Linked DNA regions of Homo sapiens: all the other regions are reported to be linked to region 2. The links are microRNA targets in miRTarBase. Many come from high-throughput screens and were not tested one by one. Region 2 holds a microRNA gene; each other region holds the end of a gene's coding sequence.

What was found. Region 2 holds the annotated microRNA hsa-miR-6780b-5p (UGGGGAAGGCUUGGCAGGGAAGA, at 3,347-3,369, shown strand). A microRNA usually pairs through its seed, bases 2 to 8, with sites in the 3' UTR of a target mRNA and lowers its output. Matches are read on the target gene's strand: a 7mer-m8 pairs with bases 2 to 8, a 7mer-A1 pairs with bases 2 to 7 and ends in A, and an 8mer does both.
Region 1: miRTarBase lists RTBDN as a target of hsa-miR-6780b-5p. Seed matches in the 3' UTR shown: 7mer-m8 at 6,404-6,410.
Region 3: miRTarBase lists ZNF689 as a target of hsa-miR-6780b-5p. Seed matches in the 3' UTR shown: 7mer-m8 at 5,965-5,971.
Region 4: the mRNA of BICRA is a reported target of hsa-miR-6780b-5p. Seed matches in the 3' UTR shown: 7mer-m8 at 7,194-7,200.

What each region holds. Positions count from the first base shown.
Region 1 is chr19:12,819,264-12,826,954 of GRCh38, forward strand. RTBDN (retbindin) reads right to left here. Exons shown (of 6, transcript NM_001270441.2): 5 at 7,512-7,608; 6 at 6,219-6,670. The coding sequence ends at 6,443. It overlaps RTBDN-AS1 (RTBDN antisense RNA 1), which reads left to right and starts at 6,470. Exons shown (of 3, transcript NR_187779.1): 1 at 6,470-6,649; 2 at 7,522-7,629. RefSeq lists a cis regulatory region at 5,868-6,668 and an enhancer at 6,237-7,013.
Region 2 is chr6:43,431,201-43,438,891 of GRCh38, forward strand. MIR6780B (microRNA 6780b) reads left to right here and starts at 3,342; the gene lies at 3,342-3,420. It overlaps ABCC10 (ATP binding cassette subfamily C member 10), which reads left to right. Exons shown (of 22, transcript NM_001198934.2): 3 at 942-2,160; 4 at 3,421-3,648; 5 at 4,551-4,707; 6 at 4,938-5,047; 7 at 6,734-6,813; 8 at 7,424-7,595.
Region 3 is chr16:30,597,930-30,605,620 of GRCh38, forward strand. It overlaps ZNF689 (zinc finger protein 689), which reads right to left. Exons shown (of 3, transcript NM_138447.3): 3 at 4,629-7,518. The coding sequence ends at 6,335. Among named protein-coding and RNA genes, the nearest start is that of ZNF689, 8.6 kb to the right of the region's middle.
Region 4 is chr19:47,701,964-47,709,631 of GRCh38, reverse strand. It overlaps BICRA (BRD4 interacting chromatin remodeling complex associated protein), which reads right to left. Exons shown (of 15, transcript NM_001394372.1): 15 at 6,355-7,668. The coding sequence ends at 7,217. Among named protein-coding and RNA genes, the nearest start is that of EHD2, 7.6 kb to the left of the region's middle.

The DNA of each region.
Region 1 (7,691 bases), not on the chromosome of region 2:
TTATAGGAACCTACCACCACACCCTGCTAATTTTTGTATTTTTAGTACAGACGAAGTTTCACCAAGTTGGCCAGGCTGGTCTTGAACTCCTGACCTCAGGTTATCCACCCGCCTCAGCCTCCCAAAGTGCTGGGATTACAGGCATGAGCCACCGCGCCCGGCCTGCAAATGTTACTTCTAACAACAGCCTTTGAATTTGTGAGAACTCAGTGCTGGGTCCCCGTCCCAGCAGCGTGAAGCTCACACGGGAGTTGGAAAGAGTCCAGGGTTCCACACTGGCCTGCTGAAGATCCCGAGTGTCATGTTTTTGAGGTTTTTTTTAAGAAACAGAGTTGGCTGGGTGCGGTGGCTCACGCCTGTAATCCCAGCACTTTGGGAGGCCAAGGCGGGTGGATCACCTGAGGCCAGGAGTTCTAGACCAGCCTGGCCAACATGGTAAAACCCCATCTCTACTAAAAATACAAAAATTAGCCAGGCCTGGTGGCAGGCACCTGTAATCCCAGCTACTCCAGGGGTTGAGGCAGGAGAATTGCCTGAACCCGGGAGGTGGAGGTTGTAGTGAGCCGAGATTGCGCCTTTGCACTCCAGCCTGGGGGACAAGAGTGAGACTTCGTCTCAAAAAAAAAAAAAAAAAAAAAAAAAGGCCGGGTGGCTCACACCTGTAATCCCAGCACTTTGGGAGGCTAAGGTGGGCGGATCACGAGGTCAGGAGATTGAGACCATCCTGGCTAACATGGTGAAACCCCATCTCTACTAAAAACACAAAAAATTAGCCAGTGTGGTGGCGGGCACCTGTAGTCCCAGCTACTCGGGAGACTGAGGCAGGAGAATGGCGTGAACCTGGGAGGCGGAGCTTGCAGTGAGCCGAGAATAGCGCCACTGCACTCCAGCCTGGGCTAAAGAGCAAGACTCCATCTCAAAAAAAAAAAAAAAAAAAAAGGGTCTCAGCCAGGCACAGTGGCTCATGCCTATAATCCCAGCACTTTGGGAGGCTAAGGTGGCGGATCACGAGGTCAGGAGTTAAAGACCAGCCTGGCCAACATAGTGAAACCGCTGTCTCTACTAAAAAATACAAAAATCAGCTGGGCGTGGTGGTGAGCGCCTGTAGTCCCAGATACTTGGGGAGGTAAGGTGGGAGGATCACTTGAGCCTGGGAGGTTGAGGCTGCAGTGAGCCGAGATTGCACCACTGCACTTAAGAGCCTGAACAACAGAGTGAGACCCTGTTTTAAAAAAACAAAAACAAGGCTGGGCACGGTGGCTCATGACTGTTATTCCAGCACTTTGGTAGGCCAAGGCAGGTGGATCACCTGAGGTCAGGAATTCAAGACCAGCCTGGCCAACATGGTGAAACCCCGTCTCTACTAAAAGTACAAAAATTAGTCAGGCATAGTGGCAGGCACCTGTAATCCCAGCTAGTAAGGAGGCTGAGGCAGGAGAATAGCTTGAACCTGGGAGGCAGAGGTTGCAGTAAGCCGAGATCGTGCCACACTGCACTCCAGCCTGGGTGACAAGAGCGAGACTCCGTCTCAAAAAACAAAAACAAAAAACCTATGGCTTTCACATGTTTCCTTTTCTAAATGAGGTCCTGAGTATGTGGGACTACAGGCACAAACCATTGCACCTCGCTAATTTTTTTTGGTTTTTGTTTTTTTTGGTAGAGATGAGGTCTTACTATGTTGCCCAGGCTGATTTTGAACTCCTGGCTTCAAGCAGTTCTCCTGCTTCAGCCTTCCAAAGTGCTGGGATTTCAGGCGTGAGCTGTCCTACCTAATTTTGTCCAGCCTAACTTTTTTTTTTTTTTTTATTTTGGAGATGAGGTCTGGCTATGGTGCCCATGCTATTCCCAATCTCCTGGCCTCAAGCAATACAGTCACCTCAGCCTCCCAAGTAGCTGAGACTGTAGCCCGAACTGCCAAACCTTGCATCACACCCTCCTGTCTCTCTCTTTTTTTTTTTTTTCTGAGACACGGTCTCCATCTGTTGCCTCAGCTGGAGGGCAGATGATGGCTCACTGCAACCTCCACCTCCTGGCTCAAGTAATCCTCCCACCTTCAGCCTCCCAAGTAGCTGGGACTACAGGTGTGTGCCACCATGCCCAGCTAATTTTTTTAATTTTTAGTAGAGATGGGGTTTTGCCCTGTTGCCCAGGCTGGTCTGGAACTCCTGACCTCAAAGAATTCATCTGCCTCGGCCTCCTAAAGTGCTAGAATTACAGGTGTGAGCCACAGCTCCTGGTACATCACACTCTATCCTCAGGTTCAAGTGTCTCTGCCTGGCATCCAGTGTCTTCCAGGACCAGATCCCATCTCCCATGGTCTATCCCAGGCTTCCTGGTCAGCTCAGAGTTCCCAGAATATGAAATCTCCAGGCCTTTCACTTGGAATGTCCTCCATGGCTTGATTATCTGACTGGAGATCCTTTAAAGACTTGCTTTACTTCCTTGAATGCTTGTTCCTCCTCCTTGTCACAATAACACAGTCTATAACATCAGTAACCCAGTATGTAACATCATCCACCAGAAGCAATCATAATAGACGGTCTACATTCATTGAGTGATAATTGTGTGCCACACTTTCTAAGCATTTTATTTGACATCCCCCCCATTGGAGGTGGAGTCTATGATGCCTCTCCTTGAATATGAGCTGGCTTCAGTGACTCACTGTAGTGAATAAAAAGTGAGAGATGTCACACTGTGTGAGTTCCAAGGTTAAGTCATCAGAACTGAAACAGATCCCACCTGGCTTGCTCTCTTGGGATATTTCCCTTAGACCGTAGCTGCCATGTTGAGAGGAAGCCCAAGCCACAGAGAGGCCATGTGCAGATATTCTGGCCAACAGCCCCAGCAGAAGTTCAAGGCAACAGCCAACACCAACTACCAGATATGTGAGCAAGGAAGCCTTCAACGTGATTCCAGCCCCAGCCACTGTGTCTGCAAGTATATGACAGATCTTCAGGAAGAACTGCCAAGCTGAACCAAGTCAAACCCCAGAACCATGAAAGATAGTAACTTTTTTTTTTTTTTTTGAGATGGAGTCTCGCTCTGTCACCCAGGCTGGAGTGTAATGGCGTGATCTCGGCTCACTGAAACCTCTGCTTCCTGGGTTCAAGCAATTATCCTGCCTCAGCCTCCTGAGTAGCTGGGATTACAGGCATGCGCCACCACACCCGGCTAATTTTCTGTATTTTTAGTATAGATGGAGTTTCACCATGTTGGTTAGGCTGGTCTCGAACTCCTGACCTCGTGATCCACCTGCCTCGGCCTCCTAAAGTGCTGGTTGTTGTTTCTTTTTTTTTGTTTTGTTTTTTGAGACGGAGTCTGGCTCTGTTACCCAGGTTGGGGCGCAGTGGCATGATCTCGGCTCACTGCAACCTCTGCCTTATGGGTTCAAGTGATTCTCCAGCCTCAGCCTCCTGAGTAGCTGGGATTACAGGCACGCACCACCATGCCCAGCTAATTTTTTATTTTTAGTAGAGACAGGGTTTCACCATGTTGGCCAGGCTGGTCTTGAACCCCTGACCTCAGGTGATCTGCCCGCCTCGGCCTCCCAACGTGCTGGGCTTACAGGCATGAGCCACTGCACTCAGCCGATAATGACTTTTTTTTCTGAGATGGAGTCTTGCTTTGTCGCCCAGGCTGGAGTGCAGTAGTGTGATCTCAGCTGACTAAAACCTCTGCCTCCCAGGTTCATGCCATTCTCCTGCCTCAGCCTCCCAAGTAGCTGGGACTACGGGTGCCTGCCACAATGCCCGACTAATTTTTTGTATTTTTAGTAGAGACGGGGTTTCACCATGTCAGCCAGGATGGTCTCGATATCCTGGCCTTGCGATCCGCCCGCCTTGGACTCCCAAAGTGCTGGGCTTACAGGCATGAGCCACCACGCCCAGCCTAGTGACCTTTTTTTCATCACTATATTGGAATTGTTTGGTATGCAGTGTTAGATAAGCAGAAAAACTTGCACTAACTCACTGAATTCTCCTTTCTCAATCCTGTGAAAGGAATGCATTTCCGTTTTATTTTATTTATTTTATTGTAATTTTTCTTTTTGAGACAAGGTCTCACCCTGTTACCCAGGCTGGAGTGCAGTGGTACTGTCTCAGGTCACCACAACCTCCACCTCCTGGGTTCGAGTGATTATCCTACCGCAGCCTCCCAAGAAACTGGGATTATAGGCATGTGCCACCACAGCTGGCTAATTTTTTTTTTTTTTTTTTTGAGACAGATCCTTGCTCTGTCACCCAGGCTGGAATGCAATGGCACGTTCTCTGCTCACTGCAACCTCCACCTCCCAGGTTCAAGCGATTCTTCTGCCTCAGCCTCCTGAGTAGCTGGGATTACAGGTGCGCCCCACCATGCCTGGCTAATTTTTGTATTTTTTAGTAGAGATGGGGTTTCTCCATGTTGGTCATGCTGGTCTTGAACTCTTGATCTCGTGATCTGCCCGCCTTGGCCTCCCAAAGTGCTGGGATTACAGGCATGAGCCATCGCACCCGGCTGCCTGGCTAATTTTTGTACTTTTGGTAGAGACGGAGTTTCGCCATGTTGGCCAGGCTGGTCTCGAACTCCTGGCCTCAAGTGAATGAACCACCTGCCTCGGCCTCCCAAAGTGCTGGGATTACAGGCATGAGACACCGTGCCTGGCCCACATTCCCATTTTAAAGATGAAGAAACTGAGGCTCAATCTGGGCAACGTGTGAAACCGAAGTTACAGCATAAGTAAGTGGTAGAGCTGGGTTGTGAACACAGGTGGACGCTACACGGGGTCATTCCCACCAAATTCTGTAGTCTGTACATGTATAATATGGGGTCTTGGGCAGGAATGGTGACTTGTGTCTGTAATCCCAGCACTTTGGGAGGCCGAGGCAGGTGGATCACCTGAGGTTTCGCCAACATGGTGAAACCCCATCTCTACTAAAAATACAAAAATTATCCAGATGTGGTGGTGTGTGCCTGCAATCCCAGCTACTCTGGAGGCTGAGGCACGAGAAGCACTTGAACCCAGGAGGCTGAGGTTGCAGTAAGCCAAGATTGCACCACTACAATTCAGCCTGGGAGACAAAGCTAGACTCTGTCTCAAAAAAACAAACAAACAAACAAAAAAAACGCCAGGCGTGGTGGCTCACACATGTAATCTTAGTACTTTGGGAGGCCAAGGTGGGTGGATCCCCTGAAGTGAAGAGTTTGAGACCAGCCTGGCCAACATGGTGAAACCCTATCTCTACTAAAAATACAAAAAATTAGCTGGGCTTGGTGGCAGGTGCCTGTAATCCCAGCTACTAGGGAGGCTGAGGCAGGAGAATCACTGGAACCCGGGAGGAGGAGGTTGCAGTGAGCTGAGATCCTGCTATTGCACTCCAACCTGGGCAACAAGAACGAAACTCAGTCTCAAAATAAATAAATAAATAAAAAGCTGGGATCTGGCTTTTGCCCAGGCTGGAGTGTAGTGGCAGGATTATAGCTTACTGTAGCCTCAATGTTCTGGGATCGAGTGATCTTCTTACCTCAGCCTCTCAAGTAGTTGGGAGTACAGCACATACTACCAGGGCCAGCTTGGTATTCTGTGTCTGCATGTCTTATTATTATTATTTTTTTTGAGAGAGAGGCTCTCACTGTGTCACCCAGACTAGAGTACAGTGGTGTGATCGTGGCTCACTGCAGCCCTGAACTGAGCTCAAGCGATCCTCCTGCCTCAGCCTGCTGAGCAGGTAGGAATACAGGCACGGGTCACTACACTGGGCCAATTAAAAATATTCTTTTTCTTTTTCTTTTTTCTTCCTTTCTCTCTCTCTCTTTTTTTTTTTGTGGAGACAGGTTCTCACCGTATTGCGAAGCCTGGTCTTGAACTCCTGGGCTCAAGCAATCCAACCACCTCAGCCTCTCAAATTGCTGGGATTACAGGCATGAGCCTCTGCACCTGGCCTTGAAGTGTGTCTTGAGGCCTATACAAGTTAGGCAGCTTCTTGGCAGCCCTGGTGGCACACAGTGGGAAGGAACCCCTCCTGCCCTTGTCAGCCCCTGTTCTGACCCCCTCTCCATTTCCAACAACTGGGTATTCCCAGTTATGTTGACTGCTCTAGGGCACAGGCTATCTATCATTTACACTCTAGTATGAGTCAGTCACTACTTCTAGGGTCTGAGGATTAGACGTGAGACATCCGTTACTTTCTGGCAATTCTCCTTCCGACTTATTTCCCCAAGAAGCAGCCACACTCGTCACGTGCTCTAGCTGGCGACTTTATTCAAAGGGGAGAGGGAAAAGTGAGAGAGTTGGGTCATTTCTGGGATAACCTGGAGAGGGGTGGGTCTCTGGAGCTCCAGGGAGGAGGGACAGACATCTCAAAACTATTACAGAAGGCCGAGAGGACGAGGGGTGGGGTTCTGGGTGTCCTGAGGGGCGGGGCTGGGGGAAGGGTCGCTCCCCCAACTCAGGGCCACGCGTCCGCTAGGGGCCGCTGCCGCTTCCACTGCCACTCCCGCTGCCCGCAGCGTCCAGGATGGAGGTGCGAGGGCTGCGGGAACGCCGGGAGGGAGCTTCCCGGCCCCGTCGTCCTGGTCTGGGACGAGGTACCGCGGAGATGGAGATGTTGAAGCAGTGACGGGCTCCAGGAGCAGCCACCGGTAGGGCGTGGCCCAGAGCCGAGCGACAAAGGTCCGTCCCGTCTGCGAAGGTCTAGGAAAAAGTGGAGTTAAGGCCCTAGTGGGCGGAGTCCAGAGACGTGGGGGGCGTGGCCTCGGGAAGGGAAAAATGTGTAAATTCCTTAGGGATTGGGGTCAGAGCCGGAGCGTGCGGCCTGGGAGTCTATGTGCGGAACGTGAGTGGGGGCAGGTCCTTGGGGAGGGTGAATGTTCTTACTGGGCCCTAGCGGGATGAATCAGGGTTGGGGCAGTTGGGGGGCGCGCAGAGAGGTCTGTATCAAGGCTGGGGTTTTGTAGAGAGTGACTGGGCTTCTGGGTCCTCCAGGGTAAAATGTGGATGGACCCAGAGCAGGAATGGTTTCTTGGGAAGGGCAAATCTGGACTTCGAGAGCTTTTGGGGTCAAAGGGCACAACCCAGTAGGAGGTTGGGCTAGGGAAGGGTGGGAGCAGGGACCTGGGGAGTACCAATCCGGTCTCTGGGGTCTAGACACGGTAAGAAAGAACTTGGTGGGGGCCGGGGGCGGTGGCTCACACCTGTAATCCCAACACTTTGGGAGGCCGAGGTGGGCGGATCACCTGAGGTCAGGAGTTCGAAACCAGCCTGGCCAACATGGTGAAACGCTGACTCTACTAAAAATACAAAAATTAGCTGGGCATGGTGGCATGCGCCTGAAATCCCAGCTATTCGGGAGGTTGCGGCAGGAGAATCACTTGAACCCCGGAGGCGGAGGTTGCATCGAGCTGAGATCGCGCCACTGCACTCCAGCCTGGGTGACAAGAATGAAACTCCGTCTCAGAAATAAATAAATAAATAAATAAATAACTTGGTGGGGAGGATCTCAGTCTCTTCCCTTCACCTTCTGCCCCACGCTCACCTGTCCATAGGTAAGGCAGCTGGGCTCACAGCCCCTTTTTTCTGAGAGTGGGAGCCAAGTCGGGCCGCAGGTGATATCATCTTCGCAGTTGGCGAACCTGGAGATGGCGAGTGGAGAGGTGGGTAAAGCCTTTGTAGTTACATTCCAGCGCGATTCTGGCTCTTCTAGACTGTGTTCACT
Region 2 (7,691 bases):
TTATAAAGTTTAGGCTACCATATTAGAATATAAAAGCTGTATGTAAGTCCGATTTTTATTCATTTAATAGTGCTTCAGGTGAATTTAAGGGTACTGTTAGGTGGATCCTTTTGTAAAAATGAATATGTACCCTTTATCAGTTATCTGCATGAAAACTTTGGATTTTCTTTTTTTTCCTGAGACGGAGTCTTCCCCTGTCACCCAGGCTGGAGTGCATTGGCGTGATCTCAGCTCACTGCAACCTCCATCTCCCAGATTCAAGCGATTCTCCTGCCTCAGCCTCCTGAGTAGCTGGGATTGCAGGTGCCTGCCACCATGCCTGGCTAATTTTTGCATTTTTGGTAAAGATGGGGGTTTCACCATGTTGGCCAGGCTGGTCTCGAACTCCTAACCTCAGGCGATCCTCCCGTCTCAGCCTCCCAAAGTGCTAGGATTACAGGCGTGAGCCACGGCGCCCAGCCTGGATTTTTTTTAAAATTTTAGATTCATGAGGCATATGTGCTTGTTTGTTATTATACATGGATATATTATGTGATGCTGAAGTTTGGGCTTCTAATGATCCCATCACCAAAGTAGCAAACGTAGTACCCAGGATTTTTTTTTTCCTAGTTAGTCTTCATGTTAAGTACAATCTTACCTCAAAATTGTTAATGTCTGTGGTTTAAAAAAAAACATGAATCAGAAATGGTGTGGGTAGTTTAGAAAATGAGTTAGGTTCAGGTGGCCGGTTAGCTCAGTTGGTCAGAAAATGAGTTAGGTTCATCTGGGAAGACTTCCTGGGAGAAAAGACCCTGGGTTCTGAGGTAAAGTGGAGTAGGGATAAGATGTGCAAGGCAGGAAGGGAGTTGATTCCTTAGGTAAGTGAATTATTGGAGGTGAGGGGTATGTCTGGCTCCTGAGTCAGCCACGATGTGCCTCCTTGTCTTCCCCCTTGTCCCCAGGAGTCCAGATTACATCCTACCCTGCAGTCCTGGATGGCGCCTCCGACTTGCAGCTTCCTTCCTGCTTTCCGTCTTCCCGCTGCTAGACCTTCTTCCAGTTGCTTTGCCACCAGGGGCAGGCCCAGGACCCATAGGGCTAGAGGTGTTGGCAGGGTGCGTGGCAGCTGTGGCCTGGATCAGCCACAGCCTGGCCCTGTGGGTGTTGGCACATTCCCCTCATGGCCACTCCCGGGGTCCCTTGGCCTTGGCCCTGGTAGCCTTGCTGCCAGCTCCAGCCCTAGTGCTGACCGTGTTGTGGCATTGCCAGCGAGGCACACTTCTGCCCCCACTTCTCCCAGGGCCCATGGCCCGCCTATGCTTGCTCATCCTGCAGCTGGCTGCACTCTTGGCCTATGCACTGGGATGGGCAGCTCCTGGGGGACCACGAGAACCCTGGGCTCAGGAGCCCCTCCTGCCCGAGGATCAAGAACCTGAGGTGGCTGAAGATGGGGAGAGTTGGCTGTCACGCTTTTCCTATGCCTGGCTGGCACCCTTGCTGGCCCGTGGGGCCTGTGGAGAGCTCCGGCAGCCTCAGGACATTTGCCGCCTCCCCCACAGACTGCAGCCAACCTACCTGGCTCGTGTCTTCCAGGCACACTGGCAGGAGGGGGCACGGCTGTGGAGGGCCTTGTATGGGGCCTTTGGACGGTGCTATCTGGCACTTGGACTGCTGAAGCTGGTGGGGACCATGTTGGGATTCTCAGGGCCCCTGTTGCTCTCCCTACTGGTGGGCTTCCTGGAAGAGGGGCAGGAGCCACTAAGCCACGGCCTGCTCTATGCTCTGGGGCTAGCCGGTGGGGCTGTGCTGGGTGCTGTGCTGCAGAATCAGTATGGGTATGAGGTATATAAGGTAACACTTCAGGCACGGGGGGCTGTGCTGAACATCCTGTACTGCAAGGCTTTACAGCTGGGGCCCAGCCGCCCTCCTACTGGGGAGGCCCTGAACCTACTAGGCACTGACTCTGAACGGCTGCTTAACTTTGCTGGGAGCTTCCATGAAGCCTGGGGCCTGCCCCTGCAACTGGCCATCACCCTCTACCTGCTGTACCAGCAGGTAGGCGTGGCCTTCGTGGGTGGTCTCATCTTGGCACTGCTGCTGGTACCCGTCAACAAAGTGATTGCCACCCGCATCATGGCCAGCAACCAGGAAATGCTACAGCACAAGGATGCGCGGGTTAAGGTGAGCGGGTACTTGGGGTCCCTCAGCTATCTGGAGACCCCACCCAGCCCAGGTCCCCAGGTCTTCCCATGCACACTACCTGAGGGAGTGAGAGTGACCTCAAAGTTAAGAGCTGAGACTGGAGAAAGGTAGACCTGGGTTCAAATCCTGGCTCTACACTTACTGGTTCAATCACTTCAGACAAGTCACTTAACCTATTTGGGCTTCCCCTTCCTCATCTGTAAAGTGAGAATAGTAGTAGCTTACCTTGTAGAGTTGTAAGGATCTCATGAGATAATGCTTAGTGTAGTGCCAGTCACAAAGTAAGCTCTGAATACATGTGGCCACCCTGGGAGGTAGGAAGTCATCTGTCTGGCTCCAAACAGGTCTTTAGGGCCAGAGCTGGGACCCAAGTCTCCAACCTCCTTATCTAGGGCACAGACCACCCCATGGCTGCATGTAGAGACCTAGGAGAACCTCAGCTGCCTCTTTGGGTAGGCTGAGGGGAAGGGAATAGGTCACTTTCCTGCCTGGGTCAACTCCAGGTGTTTAGGGTTTGGCTGAATCTGCAGAGCTCTGGGTTCTGCAGTGATTGTGGGTACCTTCACAAAGGGGATGGCAGTCCTGGGGGTTCATACAGCATAGTTGTCGACCCTTAGTGGAACAGCTCAGAGTGCTCCTGGAGGGAAGGGAGGTTGATAGATGGTTATGGCATGAGGCATTTTCCCCTACCTGTGACAGCTACAGACGAGGAGTTTTGGCCCTTGCCCATCTTCCCTGGGCCCATTAGCCTGTTTGACCCTGGGCTGTAGTGTGGCCTCTTATGCCTGTGTACTTCTACAGGAATAGTTTCTGTGCCACTCAAGCCGGGGGCCGGAACTGGGGGGCCAGCCCCCGAAGCCCACATCTTTTGGTTTTGGGAGATAGCCCTTTGTCCCTCATCTAATGGGAGGAGAGCTTTTACTCCACTGTGGTGACCTGGCTCCACCTTCCACCACTCCTCCTAGGAAGGTGGGGAATTCCCACTCCAAGCTGTCCCCAGCTGGAGCAAATGGAGAAGTAAGAGACTGGGAGGGGAAGCAACCCAGGGCTGAAAAGGATTTGAAGGGCAGGATTTCCAGAAAGTACTGAGGTGAGGAAGAAAACCAAGACTAGGGCAGTGCAGAGTATCTGGGAGCTTAGAGTACTGAACATTCTGCCAGCAGCCTGGGGAAGGCTTGGCAGGGAAGACACATGAGCAGTGCCTCCACTTCACGCCTCTCCCTTGTCTCCTTTCCCTAGCTTGTGACAGAGCTGCTGAGTGGCATTCGGGTCATCAAGTTCTGCGGGTGGGAGCAGGCACTGGGAGCCCGAGTAGAGGCCTGCCGGGCTCGAGAGCTGGGGCGACTCCGGGTCATCAAATACCTGGATGCGGCCTGTGTATACCTGTGGGCTGCCCTACCGGTTGTCATCTCCATCGTTATCTTCATCACCTATGTCCTCATGGGGCACCAGCTCACTGCCACCAAGGTGAGGACCAGGAAGGAAGGGGACCAGCATCAAGGAGACTTCAGCGAAGTGAAGACAGAGGCTTGGGCCCTCAGTGCTGGCTGAGAAGGAGGGAGGGATCCCTGACTGCCTCATCTCTCAACCAAGGGAAAACTGAAGAAACCTTTTTGTGGGGGCCTTGGATATATAACCCTCCCCTCTGTGAAGGAGTTCCTTTCTTTCCTCTCCTCTACCTTTCACTCCAGCTTCTATTCAGTTCCAGGCTTGGGGTTAGGTCTCTTCATCCTCGTTCTAATGGCCTTAGGAAAAAAATGTATGATGCAATCCTGGGTCTAGCCAAGGCCAGGTGATGTTGCTACTTGGAAATTCTAAAAAAAAGACTCAAAATGAGCTAGGCCTGCCTAGTTAAAAAGATGCAACCTTGGCCAGGCGTGGTGGCTCACACCTGTAATTCCAGCACTTTGGGAGGCCAAGGCAGGCGGATCACCTGATGTCAGGAGTTCGAGACCAGCCTGACCAACATGGTGAAACCTTGTCTCTACTAAAAATATAAAAATTAACCAGGTGTGGTGATGCATGCCTGTGATCCCAGCTACTCAGGAGGCTAGGGTAGGAGAATCACTTGAACCCTGGAGGTGGAAGTTGCAGTGAGCCGAGATTATGCCACTGCACTCCAGCTTAGGTGACAGAGCAAGACTCGTCAAGAAAAAAAAAAATGCAACCTGAATCCCTTGAGGAACATTGGAATTTCTAGGATTCTTTAAGTGACCATCTCTGCCACATCTGATCCCAGGATTGGCCAGCCAGCCCTTCAGTTCTGTCATTGCCCAGTTCTTCCCTCCGTAGACCTGTCCACAGGGCTTCCCATAGAAACAGGCCCTTAGATAACTCCTGGGGCTTCACCCTGCACCCACCTCACTCAGGTGTTCACGGCCCTGGCACTGGTGCGAATGCTCATTCTTCCTCTCAACAACTTCCCTTGGGTGATCAATGGTCTCCTGGAGGCCAAAGTGTCCTTGGACCGGATCCAGCTTTTCCTCGACCTTCCAAACCACAACCCCCAGGCCTACTACAGCCCAGGTAATGGGAAGCTAGTGGGCAGAACCTGGCACAGGGTGAGGAGGGAAGTGGAGCCACTTGGGTGCTGCGCATAGATGTCACCAAGAGGGCTTAGAGAGAGCGGAATCCAAAACAGACTCATTTAGCTTTGGGCAGGTAGATATGGGGCTGGCAAGTGAATTACATGATTTACCCTCCCCAAACAGATTGTGGTAGATTAGGAGCCCAAATCAAGTGGCTTCTCTGTTCAGATCCCCCTGCAGAGCCATCTACAGTATTGGAGCTGCATGGAGCCTTGTTCTCCTGGGACCCAGTTGGAACCAGCCTGGAGACCTTCATCAGTCATCTCGAAGTGAAAAAGGTTTGTTGGACAGACACCCTGGGAGAGTCCTCAGACTAACGAGAGAGATGGGAACTCATGTCAGAGAAGCAGTGACCGAGCCAATCATAGCTGATGGCTCTGCAGCTCTAATTGCTGCAGGAGGGATAGGCATTTGGTGAGCAGGTTCTAATCATGAGGAGATGACACCTCACATCTGAATCTCAGAATAGTTGCACCTCTCTCTGGTCTTTAGGCAGCTTGTATCCATCCAGTCCAGACCAATGGGTGTGCTTGTCTCTCCATGTCCCTCAGAAGCTGCAGCATTCAGAACAGGCCCTGGGGTTTATGTAGCATCTCCCCCAGATTGGGGATCTGGGGGAGAGGCCCAGCAAGTGCTTCCAAGAAATATTTTGCAAATGGGGATCCTCTGTTTAGGCTGGTGAAAAGCAATCACACCCTGTGACTCATGCTACAGCATACAAAGAACTTAAAATGGGGCATTCCTGGCAATAAGCCAACTCCTGTTCACCTCCTGTTCTGAGTTTTCACTCTCTCCTGACCTTTGTCCAACCCTGTGCCCCACAGCTCAACCCGGCATTCTCTGGTGGTGGCTGAATTGCCTCCACCACATTTGGCTCACGTTTCTGGCTTGGGCTGTATGTTTTGTTTTTCCTCTTAGTTCAGGCAAGACAAGGCTAGATTTGTACAAAGGAATTTTGCTAATGTGTTAGTTGGGGCTTTTTTGGGTATAAGTTACAGAAACACACTAGAGCTAGCTTAAGCAAACAAGAATTTATAATAAGGATGTAGAGATACATTGCAGAATCCAAAGGCAGGAACGCAGCTGGATCTTAGAAACAGCCCAGAACCAGGCCTCAACTCGCAGAGCTCTCTGCTTCTGTGTGCCTCTCTCCCTGTATTTGCCTGGTTCTCTTCTCTCTGTGGACACACCCTCCACTGAGCAGAAGATGTGACTACAGAGAATGCTCGAGTTTACAAGTTACAGCCAACAAGGAGAAGCTGCCTCTGGGACCTGATCCCAAATTCCCATGGAAAGGTCTCAGAAGTGGTGCCCACTTGTAGCTGGGTCAACCCTGGCTGGCAGGGTTGGGGCATCACAGGCAGATAGAGCTTCTGAGAGCCCAGTCCCTTCTAGAGAAGGAACTAGGACTTTTTTTTTTTTATATTTTTTTGAGCAGGGAGATAGCTCCATGAACATATGACCAAAAAAAAAAAAAAAAAAAAAAAAGGTAAACAGAAAAATTTAAGCCACAGAAATAGGGATCTATGCAAAGCTCTGCTTTTTCCCCTGAGATATGGTAACTCTAGCCACAGGTCGACTTAGCCAACCCATCATCCAGGCCCTAAAGCCTGGAATTCTACCCTTCCCTCTCCCGTTCTGGAGTGCCTGTCTCAGAGTTTACCTTGGAAGTTCTTGGGTGGTTTCCTCCCATTCTCTCTGGCATGCTGCTCCCCTTCAGAGGCCCTTCACATAGACAGTGAAACTGATAGCCACTCTGAGTGGAGAAAAAAACACCCTACTTTTCTAGAGCCTGATTTGTTGATCAGCCTGTGAAGCGGAGAATTCTTTCCCTACACACTAAAGAAAGAAGAAAAGAGAAGCCTCAGTGGGAGGACTGGCAGCCCAGAGTGTCAAGAGGGAGACCACTGCCACCTCTGTCCTGTCTCCTACCAATAGCAGATGCTTGTGTGGCTTCCTTGCAGGGTATGCTGGTGGGCATCGTGGGGAAGGTCGGCTGTGGGAAGAGCTCCCTGCTGGCTGCCATCGCTGGAGAGCTCCACAGGTAACCAACCTCCTATGCACCCCTGTCCTTACTTTGTCCTTTAGCAAACACTGAGCCCCTCTTATGTGTTGGACACCTTTTGGGGGTCAGGGGTACTAAGAAGAGCAACGCATGGTCCCTTTATTGGGAGAGTTTTCAATCTGGAAAGAAGGAGGTGGCCAAGAAAGCGAATCATTGTAATCATTACACCAGAGTGTTTTAAATGCTATAATAGTCAGCAAAGGAATGGAAACATCCAGTGTCAGCTATTCTTTCAGAAATGTGGCTGTGCAGAGAAGGGATCCAGAGAGGAGCATAGGTTTGAGGGAGGACCTTGTTTTCAGATGGGAACAAGTACAATGTGGTGGCCATACTCTCCACTGAGCTCCTGAACAGATGTAAGTACAACAGCTGCTTGGCTGTAGCCAAAGAGCTATTTCTTCCCTTCTTCGCCCAGAATGGGCTTCATTAGGACCCCTTGACCTCAGGAGCTGCCATCTCAGTCATGTGACATGAAGGGGGACCCTGTGTAGAAGACAGCAGCCTGGGGAGGCTTCTAGGAGTCAAGGGCTGGGCATGGAGGGACCCAGAGGAGAGCTGGTCCTCATATTGCTCGCCTGGCTCTCTGCAGGCTGCGTGGGCATGTGGCAGTGCGGGGGCTGTCCAAGGGCTTTGGCCTGGCCACCCAGGAACCCTGGATCCAGTTTGCCACCATCCGAGACAACATCCTCTTTGGGAAGACATTTGATGCACAGCTGTACAAGGAGGTGCTAGAAGCCTGCGCCCTCAATGATGACCTCAGTGTGAGTGCCTGGCCTTGAAACCTCTTAGCTGCCTGTTTCTCCAGTGTCCCTGACACCTCAAACCAGGAGCTTTGCTTTTCTGGAAAGGGGTTGCTT
Region 3 (7,691 bases), not on the chromosome of region 2:
CTCCTGCCTCAGCCTCCCAAGTAGTTGAGATTACAGGCATGTGCCACCATGCCTGGCTATGTTTTTGCATTTAGTAGAGACGGGATTTCACCATGTTGGTCAGACCGGTCTCGAACTCCTGACCTCAGGTGATCCACCCGCCTCGGCCTCCCAAAGTGCTGGGATTATAGGCGTGCACCCTGTGCCCGGTCGACAAGCTATTTAATGTCACTGTGCCTCTGTTTCCTCATCTGGTCAAGGAAAACAATACCTACAGTCAGATCTGGAATTTGAGGCTGCCCTACTTATAGGTTAATAAATGGGTCTGTTATTGTTTCATGGATGCTGTCAGAAAACAGAGACAAAAGACCTTACTGTTCAGGGCACAACAAGCAGCATGAGCATGCCTGCATTGGTTCCCTTCTGCCCCCTGCAGGGGCAATGTGGGATGTGCCCAGATGGATGCTAGACACACAGTGAGTTGCATCATAGGGGAGGAACAGGAAGCTCCTGCTGTTTTTTTCCTTTTTAAAGATGGGATTTGGCTGGGAGCGGTGGCTCACGCCTGTAATCCCAGCACTTTGGGAGGCCAAGGCAGGCAGATCACCTGAGGTCAGGAGTTCGAGACCAGCCTGACCAACATGGTGAAACCCTGTCTCTACAAAAATACTAAAATTAGCTGGGCATGGTGGCAGGTGAGTGTAATCCCAGCTACTTGGGAGGCTGAGGCAGGAAAGTTGCTTGAACCCAGGAGGTGGAGGTTGCAGTGAGCCAAGATCACGCCACTGCACTCCAGCCTGGGTGACAAGAGTGAGACTCCTTCTCTAAATAAATACATAAATAAATAAGATGGGGTCTTGCTATGTTGGCCAGGGTAGTCTCAAACTCCTGGCCTCAAGCAATCCTCCTGCCTTGGCCACCAAAAGTTCTGGGATTACAGTTGTGAGCCACCATGCCCAGCCATCTGCTGTTTTATAGTAAGCAGTAAGGAAGCTGCTCTTTGTCCTGGATGCAGACATTACCTCTCCCTCAAGGTTTGCTTGCTGCCAACACTCCTGAGAATTGTTCTGGGTAATGAGTGGCAAGGGCTTTGCTTATTTATTTTTATTTATTGGTTATACTTACATTTATGGTTTATTAAAGCAAAACGACACAGATTTAAAATCATCAAAGGGATAAGGTACATGGGACAAAATCCGGATGCAACCGGGCACAAACTTTCAGGTGTCTACTCCCAGTGGGGTATCACAGGGACGTGCTTTTTTCTCCCTGCAATGATTTTTGACAACAGGTGCTGATTGTTCCCAAACAGAGAAGTTCACCCAAGCTTTAGGGTGCAGGGTTTTTTTGTTTGTTTGTTTTGGTTTTTTGTTTGTTTGTTTGTTTGTTTAGATAGTCTTACTTTTGTTGCCCAGGCTGGAGAGCAATGGTGCGATCTCAGCTTACTGCAACCTCCACCTCCCAGGTTCAAGCAATTCTCCTGCCTCAGCCTCCCAAGTAGCTGGGATTACAGGTGTGTGCCACCACCTGGCTAATTTTGTATTTTTAGTAGAGACGGGGTTTCACCACGTTGGCCAGGCTGGTCTCAAACTCCTGACCACAGGTGATCCACCCACCTCGCGCTCCCAAAGTGCTGGGATTACAGACGTGAGCCACCGCGCCCGGCCATGTGTGGGGTTTTTATTGGGGATTAGTCACATAGGCTTGGAGTGTCCATACTACTGATCTCTGCTACTCAGACCCCAGAGCAAAAAACAATGTTCACTATAAATCACACTTAGGATAAACTTATTTGTTCAGACTGGTACAGCATGATGGCATGCTGTATGCCAAGACCTCTGGCATACAAAAACACTAATCAAATAAAATATTCCACGGGCTCAGAAGTTATTTCCCAGGAGCAGACCAAATGCCAGTTCTAAAGATGAGCTTTCTTTGGAATGTGCAGGGTTTGAACAACCTACACCTCCTGAGTTAACCCATTCCTACACACACCTGATCCCATGAGTCCATTGTACCTGGTAAACTAAATTTTGTATCTCTTAGAATTAAAATTAGTTTAGGTCCAATGTCAACAAATCTCTGGAAACTCTAGTTACTTCCCCTTCTCTGATGCTCACAGTAGCAGTAGTCTACATTCACTGAACCCACTTGTTTATTCTTTGGCCCACTGCAGTATTAATAGACACTTGACTGAGCTTTCATGATGTGCCATGTACTGAGTTAAGCACTTTATATACATTCCAATCTAATGTGCTTGCTAAATGGCTGCAGGTACACTTGGAAAAGGCTAGAAGCTCTACAGCATGTTTTTGTCAGTGTAGAACTGACATCAAGTCCTTCATCAAGGGAACCCAGCCTCCCCAGATCTAGAGAAGGGGAGACTCTAGATCTGTGAATAGGCTCAAGTCTGAGAATCTGTTGAAGGCAGGGACTTGCAATTTTTGCCAACTCAACAAGATGTGAAGGCAGGACTTGCCGAGATGGATCGGAAGTCAACATGAGTGGGCACGCTGGTCAATTTGGAGTCACAGCAGGGAGACTCATGGAGGAGTGTCTGTTAACACCTACTTTATAGAGTTCTTGTGAACATTGGATTGGAATGTATATAAAGTGCCTAACACAGTACATGGAACATCATAAAAGCTCAGTCAAGTGGCTATTAATATTGCAGTAGGCCAAAGAATAAACAGAAGTGGATTCAGGCCAGGTGCAGTGGCTCACACCTGTAATCCCAGCAGTTTGGGAAGCTGAGGCAGGCAGATCACTTGAGGTCAGGAGTTTGAGAACAGCCTGGCCAACATGGTGAAACCCCGTCTCTACTAAAAATACAAAAATTAGCTGGGTGTGATAGCATACACCTGCAGTCTCAGCTACTCAGGAGGCTGAGGCACAGAATCACTTGAACCTGGGAGGAGGTGGAGGCTGCAGTGAGCAGAGATCGTGCCACTGCACTCCAGCCTGGGTGACAGAGTGAGGCTCCAGCTCAAAAAAAGAAAGAAAAGAAAAAAGTGGATTCAGTGAATGTAGGCTACTGCTTCAAGGCATTTAGCTGAAAATAATAGGGATCAAGAGAAAAGTTCTTTTTTATTGTTTTAAAGGCAGATCTTAGCATGCTTATAGGCTGGAGTGTCTTTGGGACAAGAAAGGGAATCTGAAACCATAAAACTAGGAGACGAGAAAGTAGGAATAATAGAGCAAAGTCCCTGAGGGGCAGAAGGGGATGAAACCCAGGCCCAGCTGTGTTGCTGAACATTGTATATCCAGGACTTGCTGAGATGGATCAGAAGTAAATATGAGTGGGCACACTGGTCAATTTGGAGTAATGGCAGGGAGCAGAATGTTAAAGAAGCTCCTATTTGACCCCTTGTATTTTCCTAGTGAAAGCGGAGGTATTTACTGGTTAAAAATATATGGAATGGGCAGGGAGCAGTGGCTCACACCTGAATTCCCAGCACTTTGGGAGGCTGAGGCAGGTGGATCATGAAGTCAGGAGATCGAGACCATCCTGGCTAACATGGTGAAATCCTGTCTCAACTAAAAATACCAAAGATCAGCCGGGTGTGGTGGCAGGCACCTGTAGTCCCAGCTACCAGGGAGGCTGAGGCAGGAGAATCACTTGAACCCAGGAGGAGGAGGTTGCAGTGAGCTGAGATCACGCCACTGCATTCCAGCCTGGGCGACAAAGCAAGACTCCATCTCAAAAAAAAAAAAAAAATATATATATATATATGGAATGCTTCTCTGGGCACACTGCCTATAGGGTGGTCCTGCTCTGGACTACCAGAGTATTTATGTACTTATTTATTTATATTTATATTTATACATTTGTATATAAACTATTAGTTTATATCTAACTTTAATTCTATATATATATATATATATGGAAGACATAATATTGTCTTATTACTGTTGTTGCTTTTTAAGTCTTGCTATATTGCCCGGGCTGGTCTCAAACTCCCAGGTCAAACAATCCTCCCGCCTTGGCCTCTCAAAGTGCTGAGATTACAGGCATGAGCCACTGCACCCAGCCCAGAAGACATAATATTGAAGGTTCTACTGAGGTTGAAGGTCAGGAAAGGTATCGTGGCCCCTCTCAGCAGCAATGCAGTGTTTTTCCTCACAGCTCATATCTAGGCATGGAGGCAGATGGGAGATTAACCCAGACTGAGGCTGTGTATTAGTTCATTCTTTTGATTGCAAATAACAGAAACTCAAACCACCTTAAGCGGAAAGGGGAAGTTATTGGAAGGATGCTAGGATCTCTCACTGAATAAGGAACCAGGATCCCAGCTCGGGTGGATTGAAGTGCTTCAGGGAACATAGGAGGTTATCTCCCATTTCTGCTCTCCACAGACCACATAATGGAATTTAGCCATCAGTGGCTACCAAGTTTTATGAATTACAATCCAGTCCCAAAGAAAGTTATACAATTCCTAGCTGAGGAAATCCTTGCGTTCTGGTGGCAAAGGGAAGGGGAAAGAGCCAGCTCTACCAGGGGGCTGGGCAGACCTGGTAATAGGGCTCTGCTGGGCAGGACAGGTCTCCTGGTCTGAAAGTCTGGCTCTCCCATCAGAATAGCAAAGATTGCTACAGAGTCAAGGAACCAGATTGATATTTTGTAAAAAGTAATTCCACAAGGAACAGAATTCATTCATCAGACATTTTAATGAGACCCAATCTGATATGACCCCTTCTTGGGGGTAGCTCATCATCCAAGGAGAAACAAACAGTTACAATGTTACAATGCAACTTGCTAAATATTGAACAGAGGTAATTACATAAAGCTGTGTTCCCCCAGCTGCTCCCCTGCTTGTGCTGAGATCAGGAGAGCTGTAGGAAGGAGCCACAGGGGTAAAGGATGACCCACTCCAGCTGTTGGAATATGAGATGAGTCACATCTGGAAATTCTAATTTGGTGCAGCTGCCCAAGGCAAAGTGGTAGGCCTTGTTCACATTTAACTCGGTAAAGCTTTATGAAGCACCTACCCAGTGGGTGCCATGGAGGTGGATCAGATTGAGCCACGCTGCTGCCACCTCTGTGGAGGGAGGCTGGCATGGATACAACTTGATGACTATAGACTCTTCCTCTCTGGATTCAGTTCCCTCTTTCTAGCCTCCTTGAATGGCCTCAGCTCATTTTGTGAAAAAATGCTGACTGAGGCCTCATGGAAGTTCTGTGCCGATTCTTAGGTGCCTGTGATTCATCTGTGCCTGATGAGAATCAGGGTCAAGTACGGCCCAATTCTCCAGGCTTTTCCAGGCACTGGCTGCCTGAAGCCAATCCAGGTCTGCCAGGTAGAGCACAAGCCAGTCCCATTTGCACTTCCTGCTGCTAAACCACAGGTCCCTGCTTCTCCTTAAGAGCAACCTTCTCCCAGAGCTGACTACACTTATGTCTCATACCCAGCTTGAACCAATTTTCCAAATACAAGATGAAGACTTAGTTTTATAGCTTTTTTTTTTTTTTTTAAGTTTAGGGCATTTATATATCTGCAACCCAATAAACCCCTGGTACCATGCAGCTCCCCCAAATTCAGTGCAACCAAAGCTGCTGAAACAAGTCCAGCCCCAGAAGGTGTAGTGGCACTGTGGTGTTACCTTATTTTTATATGACCCTTCAAAAAGGACACTGAAAACCCAGTGCCTGTTTGCAGAGATCATGTGTGGAAATTGAAACCCTGTCTTTAAGGAATGACCAAATTCATGCTACTTAACCTGAAAACTTGGGGGCAAAGTGGTTGTGATTATCTGAAGGGCTGCTATGTAGATGAAGTATTAAACATGTCGTAGGCAAGGTTTAGAGGAGAATGTGGTACTTAACCTTCTATAGATCCCACAATGAAATGACCTGCCTTGTGAGGTAGTGAGCTCCCTGTCAAGAGAGATTTTCAAGCAATGGGTAGAAGACCACTTGGCAGGAGTGTTGCAAAAAGTGGGCTAAACCAGATTTTTCCAACCTAGTATGGAGGAAGAGGCAGAGTAGGGGAAGGTCCTGCCCCTATGAGATTCTCCTGATTGCATGCAAGATGACAGGTAATCCCTGTGTGGACAGACTAGAAAAGCAGACAGCCCCTAAAATAGATGGGGAGAACTTTTAGCCCTGATATCCACACAAACTATTTTAGGATAGGGTAGCTTGGAAAACTTTAAGCAAATGACGTCACCTCTCCTAATGGGACTGTTCCAGACACGCACAGGGAGGCAGCCAGCGCATTGCAAGATACAAAGTTCAGCTCTGTGCAGCAGGAGACCCGGGTTTAGTTCTGACTCTGCCCTGTATGACCTGGGGCTCCTCCTTCCCTTTTCTGGGACCCTCCATAAAATGAAATGAACGTAGGCAGTCCTTCCCCTTCTAATGGGCGTTGCCCCTCTGACTGGAGCCCCCGATAGCAGATCTAGGGCTACAGTTTGGGGCCTTGGGGCTACACTTGTGGACAGCCAGAGACCACCTCTGGCGGAAGCACCGGCCACACTCGAGGCAGGGGAAAGGCTTCTCCCCCGTGTGCAGCAGCTGGTGCTGGGCCAGGTGGCTCCACTGAGCAAAACGCTTGGAGCAAAGGTCGCAGGCATAGGGCCGCTCGCCCGAGTGCACGCGCCGGTGGCTGGCCAGCAGTGAGGGGTAGGCAAAGCGGCGACCACAGTCGTCGCAGGCGTGCAGCTTCTCCTCTGTGTGCGTGCTGCGATGGATGGCCAGGGAGCCGCTCCGCCGGAAGGCACGCCCACAGTCTGGGCAGGGGTAGGGCTTCTCTCCGGTGTGCAAGAGCTGGTGCTGGAGCAGCGTGCTGCGCTGGGAGAAGCGGGCCTCACAGTGCTCGCAGGCATAGGGACGCTCCCCAGAGTGCACACGCCGGTGACTGACCAGGCGAGAGGAGGAGGAGAAGCGCCGCTCGCAGTCCGGGCACGGGTAGGGCTTCTCGCCCGTGTGGATGCGCTGGTGGATGACGAGGGCCGTGCGCTGGCGGAAGCGGCGGTTGCACTCGAGGCAAGTGTAGGGCTTCTCTCCCGTGTGTGTACGCTGGTGGATGGCTAGCAGGGAGGGGTAGGCGAAGCGACGTCCACAGCTAGGGCACTGGTGGGGTTTTTCACCTGTGTGTGTGGTCCGGTGATTGGCCAAGGACCGGCTCCTCCGGAAGCAGCGACCACAGTCAGGGCAGTGATAGGGCTTCTCCCCTGTATGGATGACCTGGTGCTGGGAGAGGTTCTTGCGCTGGGAGAAACGTTTGCCACACTGGTCACAAACATAGGGGCACTCGCCGGAGTGTGCCCGCCGGTGACTGACCAGCAGGGATGGATAGGAAAAGCGGCGCCCACAGTCTGGGCAAGGGTAAGGCTTTTTTAGATTCTGGGCGCACTTGTGGCTCTCCAGGGCCTGATGATCAGGGAAGGTACAGCCGCAGTCAGGGCAGATGGGGCCCCCGGACGTCTGCCTAGGAATCAGTCGGGGTTTGCTGGGCCTCCGGCCTCGCTTCCCCTTTCGGGGTGCCTCCTTAGGCGGGAATACTTCCTTCTCCCCATTCTTCTTTCTGGTTCTGCTTTCTATAGAAATACAGAAGCATTAATTTAACAAATACTGGGCTCCTGCTCTTGTCAATTACATTATAGGTTACAAGACCAATAGACTCACCCCCTGGTCTCAATTCCTAGTGCCACAGACAGCTAAGTGTGACATACTGTCATGCAAATACGGTGTGCATTACAGGAGCTTCTAA
Region 4 (7,668 bases), not on the chromosome of region 2:
CTCAGCTCCCTGCAACCTCTGCCTCCCAGGTTAAAGCGATTCTCATGCCTCAGCCTCCCCAGTAGCTGGGACCACAGGTGCCTACCAACAAGCCTGGCTAATTTTTTGTATTTTTTAGTAGAGACGGGGTTTCACCATGTTGCCCAGGCTGGTCTTGAACTCCTGAGCTCAGGCAATTCACCCGCCTTGGCCTCCCAAAGTGCTAGGATTACAGGCATGAGCCACCGCACCCAGCCCAGTTGTGGATATTTTCAGCGATTGTATACACTCATCGCTCACTGGCCCCACAGCCAGCTCTCTCTAATGAATGCATTGAGGCAGGTTGGCTCACAGCCCAGTCTGCCATGTACTACATCTTTGGGGCCTCAGTTTCCTCACCTGCAAGCTGGGCCTATTAGTTCCCACGCTGGGGCTGCTGTGAGGACCAGATATGCTAACCCATGCGGTTCCCTGTTTAGTAAAGGTTGGTCACTGCTGTTCTGTTCTTCCGCTCGCCTGCAGGCAGTCAGCCTTGCAGAACTGAGTCCCGGAGCCCGTGGAAATTGTGGACGAGTCCTTGTGAGTAATCAGGAGGGGTCTTTCAGGAGAGTCTCTCCGAGAGTTTTGTGATCCAAGGATGTTAAGAAACAGCCATTTAGGCTGGGCGAAGTGGCTCACACTTGTAATCCCAGCACTTTGGGAGGCCGAGGAGGGTGGATCGCTTGAGCCCAGGAGTTTAAGACCAGCCTGGGCAATATGGTGAAACCCTGTCTCTACCAAAAGTACAAAAAAATTAGCCAGGCGTGGTGGCGCATGCCTGTAATTCCAGCTACTTGGGAGGCTGAGGCAGGAGAATGGCTTGAACTCAGGAGGCGGATGTTGCAGTGAGCCAAGATTGTGCCACTGCACTCCAGCCTGGGCGACAGAGTGAGACTCCATCTCAAAAAAAATTATCTATTTATTTATTATTTATCTATTTTTTGAGACGGAGTCTCACTCTGTCACCTAGGCTGGAGTGCAGTGGTGGGATCTCAGCTCACTGCAAGCTCCGCCTCCCGGGTTCACACCATTCTCCTGCCTCAGCCTCCTGAGTAGCTGGGACTACAGGCACCAGTCACCACGCCCGGCTAATTTTTTTGTATTTTTAGTAGAGACGGGGTTTCACTGTGTTAGCTAGGATGGTCTCGATCTCCTGACCTCATGATCCGCCTGCCTCGGCCTCCCAAAGTGCTGGGATTACAGGCATGAGCCACCCCGCCCAGCCAAAATTTTTTTTTTTTTTAAGAAACAGCTGTTTTCCTATAGTGCTTTATTTCACACGTGGAGGGAGTAGTTCTAGAGCTAGGAAAGGGGATGGTCCATCCCTCTGAGACCCCAGATATCAATTTCCCACCCACATACAACCCCAGGGGGCCCATTGCCATGGCTCATGCCTGTAATCCCACCACTTTGGGAGGCTGATGCGGGAGGACTGCTATAGGCCAGTGAGACCCCTGTCTCTACAAAAAATAAAAATAAAACAATAAAAATTAGCCAAGTGAGGTGGTATGCACCTACTCAGAAGGCTGTGCCAGGAGGATCCTTTGAGCCCAGGAGTTCGAGGCTTTAGTGAGCTGTGATTGCACCACTGCACTCCAGCCTGGGTGACCCAGTGAGACCTTCTCTCTCTCTGTCTGTCTGTCTGCCTCTCTCTCTCTCTAAGACAAGGTCTGGCTGTATCGCCCAGGCTGAAGTGCAAGCAGTGGTGCAATCTCAGCTCACTGCAACCTCCATCTCCTGGGCTCAAGCAATCCTCTCATCTCAGCCTCCCCAGTAGCTGGGATCACAGACGCACACCACCACACCCAGCTAATTTTTTTTTTTTTTTTGTAAAGACCGGATTTCGACATTTTGGCCAGGCTAGTCTCGAACTTCTGACCTTAGGTGATCCACCTGCCTCTGCCTCCCAAAGTGCTGGCATTACAGGAGCAAGCCACTGTGCTGGGCCGAGACCCTGTGTCCTAAAAACAACCAAAAAATAAACAAACAAAACACTTCCAGGGGCCTGCAGAGAAACAGGGTGCATCACCCCGGTCCAGCCGCCACAACCACCCACCTGGACTCACAGCAGTTGCCTCCTCGCTGCGCTTGGTTTCCACCCTTACCCCTCGTCTATTCCCGCAAACAGCCACCAGAGGGTGCTGGGGAACCTAAGTTCGCTCAGGGCCCTCCTGAAGCTCCCGTCTCAGTGTAACAGCGAAATCATCCCCATGGAGGACACGGTCCCGCACGATGAGGTGCCCTTTGTTCCCCCTCGGACCTCACCTCCAGACCTCTCCCCATCACTTATGGGCTGCAGCCGCATTGGCTTTTTCGCTGTTCCTCGACACTCCAGGCAGGCTCCTGCCACAGGGCCTTTGCACTGGCGGTTCCCTCTGCCTTGGATGCTCTTCCCTGAGAGCTCTCCTGTGGCTTCCTCCCTCTTTTCCTGCATGTCTCTGCTCAAATATCACCTCCTCAAAGAATCTTTCCCTTCCCACCTGATCCCGAGGGCCCTGATGTGCAGTTGGGCAGGTTGTTCACTGCACAAGGCACTCACTGAATGGGTGAGAGGGGACTGGAGCCCAGCTCATGCTCTGCTCTTCAAATTCTGGGCCCAGGAGAGAGGGGTGCCCTTTTCTAGTTCACACAAAGGCATACTAGGGCCTGACAGCTGTCTTGCCCACTTGCGGAGTCCTAATTAGGGAGAGTCAGGCTGCTGAGAATGCAGGAAAGCAAAAAGATAAAGCAGCTAAGTTACAGGTCTGCCTTTCTTTACTGTCCAGGACATAGCCCTCCTATACAAATAACTCAATCTTCCTGCGCCCAAGTATCACCAGACACCTGCAAGTGAGCTCACTGTAACCCTGGCATTATCAGTACTGCACAAAGCCCTCTTCAGCACACAACATGAACTCTCCTATATGCCGGGCATGGTGGCTCACGCCTGTAATCCCAGCACTTTGGGAGGCAGAGGCAGACGGATCACTTGAGGTCAGGAGTTCGAGACCAGCCTGGCCAACATGGTGAAACCCCATCTCGACTAAAAATACAAAAATTAGCTGGGCATGGTGATGGGTGCCTGTAATCCCAGCTACTCAGGAGGCTGAGGCAGGAGAATTGCTTGAACCCGAGATGCGGAGGTTGCAGTGAGCTGAAATCATGCCACTGCACTCCAGCCTGGGTGACAGAGCGAGACTCTATCTAAAAAGCAAATGAAAAAACCAACTCCATCCTATACAACCCCCAGCAAGCCTTTGTTTCCTTGCAGTCAGCTTCTCCCTGGCTGTGTTGCCCATTGCAACTTTGCAATATATTTTCCTACTTTATTTCATAAATCTGCCTTTTTTTTTTTTTTGATGGAGTCTCACTCTGTTGCCCAGGCTGGAGTGCAGTGGTGCAGTCTTGGCTCACTGTAACCTCTGCCTCCTGGGCTGAAGTGATCCTCCCAGTTCCCAAGTAGCTGAGACTACAGGTGTGCATCACCACGCCCTGCTAATTTTGTATTTTTATTTATTTATTACCTTTTTTCGATGGAGTTTCACTCTTGTTACCCAGGCTGGAGTGCAATGACGCGATCTCAACTCACTGCAACCTCTGCCTCCTGGGTTCAAGTGATTCTCTTGCCTCAGCCTCCTGAGTAGCTGGGATTACAGGTGCCTGCCGCCACACCTGGCTAATTTTTGTATTTTTTAGTAGAGGCAGGGTTTTGCCAAGTTGGCCAGGCTGGTCTCAAGCTCCTGACCTCAGGTCATTTACCCACCTCAGCCTCCCGAAGTGCTGGGATTACAGGCGTGAGCCACTGCACCTAGCCAATTTTTGTATTTTTAGTAGAGATGGGGTTTCACTGTTAGTCAGGCTGGTCTTGAACTCCTGACCTCAAGTGATCCGCCCACCTCCCAAAGAGTTGGGATTACAGGCGTGAGCCCATAAATCTGCTTTTTTTTTTTTTTTTTTAACCTACCACTGTCTTGGTAAATTCTTTTACCCCCACACCACCAGCCCAGATAATTGTCACTCACTTGTGACACCCACCTCCTTACCCTGCATTACGGATTGAGTTGTTCTGTCCTCTCAAAATATAGGCTGATGTCCTAACCCTAGTGCCTGTGAATGTAATTTTATTTGGAATCAGGGTCTGTGATCTGAAGAAAGCTAGAAGGGCTGGGCGCGGTGGTTCACGCCTGTAATACCAGCACTTTGGGAGGCTGAGGCCGGTGGATCATGCCATCAGGAGATTGAGACCATCCTGGCTAACACAGTGAAACTCCGTCTCTACTAAAAATACAAAAAATCAGCTGGGCGTGGTGGCACATGCTTGTAGTCCCAGTTACTCGGGAGGCTGAGGCAGGAGAATCACTTAAACCCTGGAGGCAGAGATTGCAGTGAGCTGAGATCGTGCCACTGCACTCCAGCCTGGGCGACAGAGCAAGACATCTGTCTCAAAAAAAGAAAAAGAAAAAGAAAGCTAGAAGAAAAAAAAAAGGGAATCAGGATCTTTGCAGATATGATTAAGTTATGACAAGGGCATACTGGTAGGATGGGCAAAACTCCAATATGACTGATGCCCTTAGAAGAGAAGAGATACAGTGGGAAGTCAGCCAGAGATTGGACTGATTCAGCCACAAGCCAAGGAGAACCTGGGGCCACCAGAAACTGGCAGAGACAAGGAAGGATCCTTCCCTAGCACCTCTGGAGTGGGCATGGCCCTGATGCCACCTTGTTTTCAGACTTCAGGCCTCTAGGGCTGTGGGAGAATAAATATCTGTTGTTTTAAGCTGCCCTATTTGGGGCATTTTGTTATAGCAGCTTGAGGGGACTAATACACCTAGCATGATTTTTTTTCTTCTTTTTTTTTGTTGGTCGGGGGATAGAGTCTCACTCTGTTGCCCAGGCTGGAGTGTCAGTCTCGTCTCACTGCAACCTCCATCTCCTGGGTTCAGGCGATTCTCCTGCCTCAGCCTCTGAAGAAGCTGGGACTACAGGCGTGTGCCACCATGCCAGCTAATTTTTGTATATATATATATTTTTTATAAGTAGAGATGGGGTTTCACTATGTTGGCCAGGCAGGTCTCGAACTCCTGACCTCAGGTGACCCACTCGATTTGGCCTCCCAAAGTGCTGGGATTACAGGTGTGAGCCACCGTGCCTGGCCTGATTCTTCTTTATATGGGCATCTGACACTGTATACATTTACAGTGGACCCTCACTATTTGCAAATGCCATATTTGTGCATTTATCTGCTCATCAAAACTTCTTTGTAACCCCCAAGTCAAGACTCTCAACACACACACGGCAGCAAAATATCAAGTTGCCCAACACAGACGTTCGTTCCCAGCTGAGGTTGAATAAGGCGACATTCTGCCCTCGTTTTGGCTCTCGTACCATAAACACGCGTCCTTTTCTTGGTTTATCTAGTCCCACGCTTTTCACATTTTTGTGCTTTTTGTTGGTGACTCATTGTTTAAAATGGGCCCAAGCGTACAGCTGAAGTGCGGTCTAGTGACCTTAAAGCACCAAGAAGCTGTGATGTGCCTTTGGAGAAAAGATAAAATATATGTGTGAAATAGGCTTGCTCCAGGTTCCAGTTATAATGCTGTTGGCATGACTTCAATGTGAATGAATCAACAATATAAATGAAATAAGGTATCTTTAGGGCTGGGCGTGGTGGCTCACGTCTGTATTCCCAGCACTTTGAGAGGCCAAGGCCAGAGGATCACTCGAGCCGTGGAGTTCCAGACCAGCTTGGGCAACATAGTGAGATCCCATTGCTACAGAAAGATTAAAAAAAAAAATAGCTAAGCGTGGTGGTGCGCCTATAATCCCAGCTACTCGGGAGGCTGAGGTGGGAGGATCACTTGAGCCTGGGAGATCAAGGCTGCAGTGAGCCACGATCGTGCCACTGCACTCCAGCCTGGGTGACAGAGTGAGCCCGTCTCAAAAATACATAAAGAAGTGTTTTTAAACAGCAACACATGTAAACTAAGGTGATGTATTGACTGAACTGTGGTGATCAGAGGCCCTTAGAAACCTAACCCTGTCTCCCTGGGGGCAATGGCTCAGTATTCACTAATTCTCAGAGTGTATGCAGAGATTATAGAACCTTACCGGAAATAAGAAGAACTGGCTTGATCTGGCTTAGCTGTTTACCACCCGCCTTCCCCACTAACAAGTCAGCTTACCGGCTTAGCAGGGACTCTTGTCTGCCTTGTTCATGTTGAACCCCCTGAGCCTAGAACGGGGCCTGGTACTCAGCAGGTGCTCAACAGATGCATGCGGAAGAAGGCCTCACAATCCCAGATCCAAACACTCCCCCACCCTCACAAACCCAAAAGCAATGGGCCAAGGGGGCATGAGTACAGTTTTAAAAAAAGGATCGGTTTTTAATTTACAAGAGTTCTAAATGTACAGAATTCTCCTTTAAAAAAATCGTTATACACAATAAATACAGTACAAAAAAATTTATCTTACAGTACTAGTTTTGTCTCCGAGATTTCAAAATCTGGCGCGGGCGGCTGGAGGCAGGAAGAACAGAGGGAAGACTAGCTGGGGAGAGGTTCGGGGGAGAGGAAGACCCCAGTTTCTTGTTTTGCTCAGATTTCAAAGTCGAGGGGTGGGCGTTCGAAATCTCTCACTCACTTGTGCACACACACACACACACAGGTCACGGAGCTGGACGTGCGGATGTCACACGGGTGCCTGCGGGCACAGCACGCTGGGAGGCTGGCTCCCCCACCCCCTCTCCGGTTTTGTTTGACAGCCTGTTGGGGGCGGCGGGGAGAGGCTGAGACTGTCTGGAAGGACCCTGCCAGCTCCCAGCACCCTCCACCATCTGAGAAGCCACACAGACAAGACAGGCACCCGGAGCGTTGGCATCAACCCGGTGGCCCCATCCCTGGCAAACACATGCGCGTGTCCCCCGGACAGAGGGGCAGAGTGTGCCAGGAAATGGGAAGAAACAGGAACTGACACAGCACTTTGCCCCTCCTTTGGCAGGGGAGACGTTTTACATCACAGCCCCCTCCCTAAATCCACGCCCACCCCCCAGCAACCCAGCTGAAGCAGGCGGCAGGGAAGGAGGCCTTTGTGACTCAAATAACTTAGGCAAGAAAAACCGTCAGGGGATCCCCGGCTCGAGTCCCCAGGAGGCTGAGGGCGGACACCCGACTGTCCCGGCGTCTTCGGGAGGAGGGGACGGGGAAGGGGAGGCGGCCCGGTGTTATCTGGTCAACGTCCTGGCGCCGAGGCCACCGTTGTGACTGGAGGGTGGGTAGGCCTCGGGCCTGTGCAGGGGCGGCGGGGATGCGGGGGTGCCGGCCGAGGCAGCGTGGGGGTACGAGGGCGCGGGCGTCCGGCCGGGGGCCTGCTGCAGGTTCAGGATGCTGTCGATGGCGCTCTGCAGGTGCTCGGTGAGCGTGTCATCCTGCGGGCTGTCGCTGGAGAAGCTGGCCTGGTCCACGTCGGGCGACTCGGACTTGCGCCGCTTGGCAGGGGGCAGCCCGGGCGCCTCCCAGTCGGGGTCCCCGGTGCCTTGGGCGGCGCTGGCTGCGGGCTCTGGCGGGGGGCCCTTCAGCATACGCTGGTACAGCTCGTCCTCCACGGCCGCCAGCTCGCGGATGAGCCCGCTGGTGGCCTCGTCCACTTTGGCGGGCAGCGGCGCCGGGCTGCCTC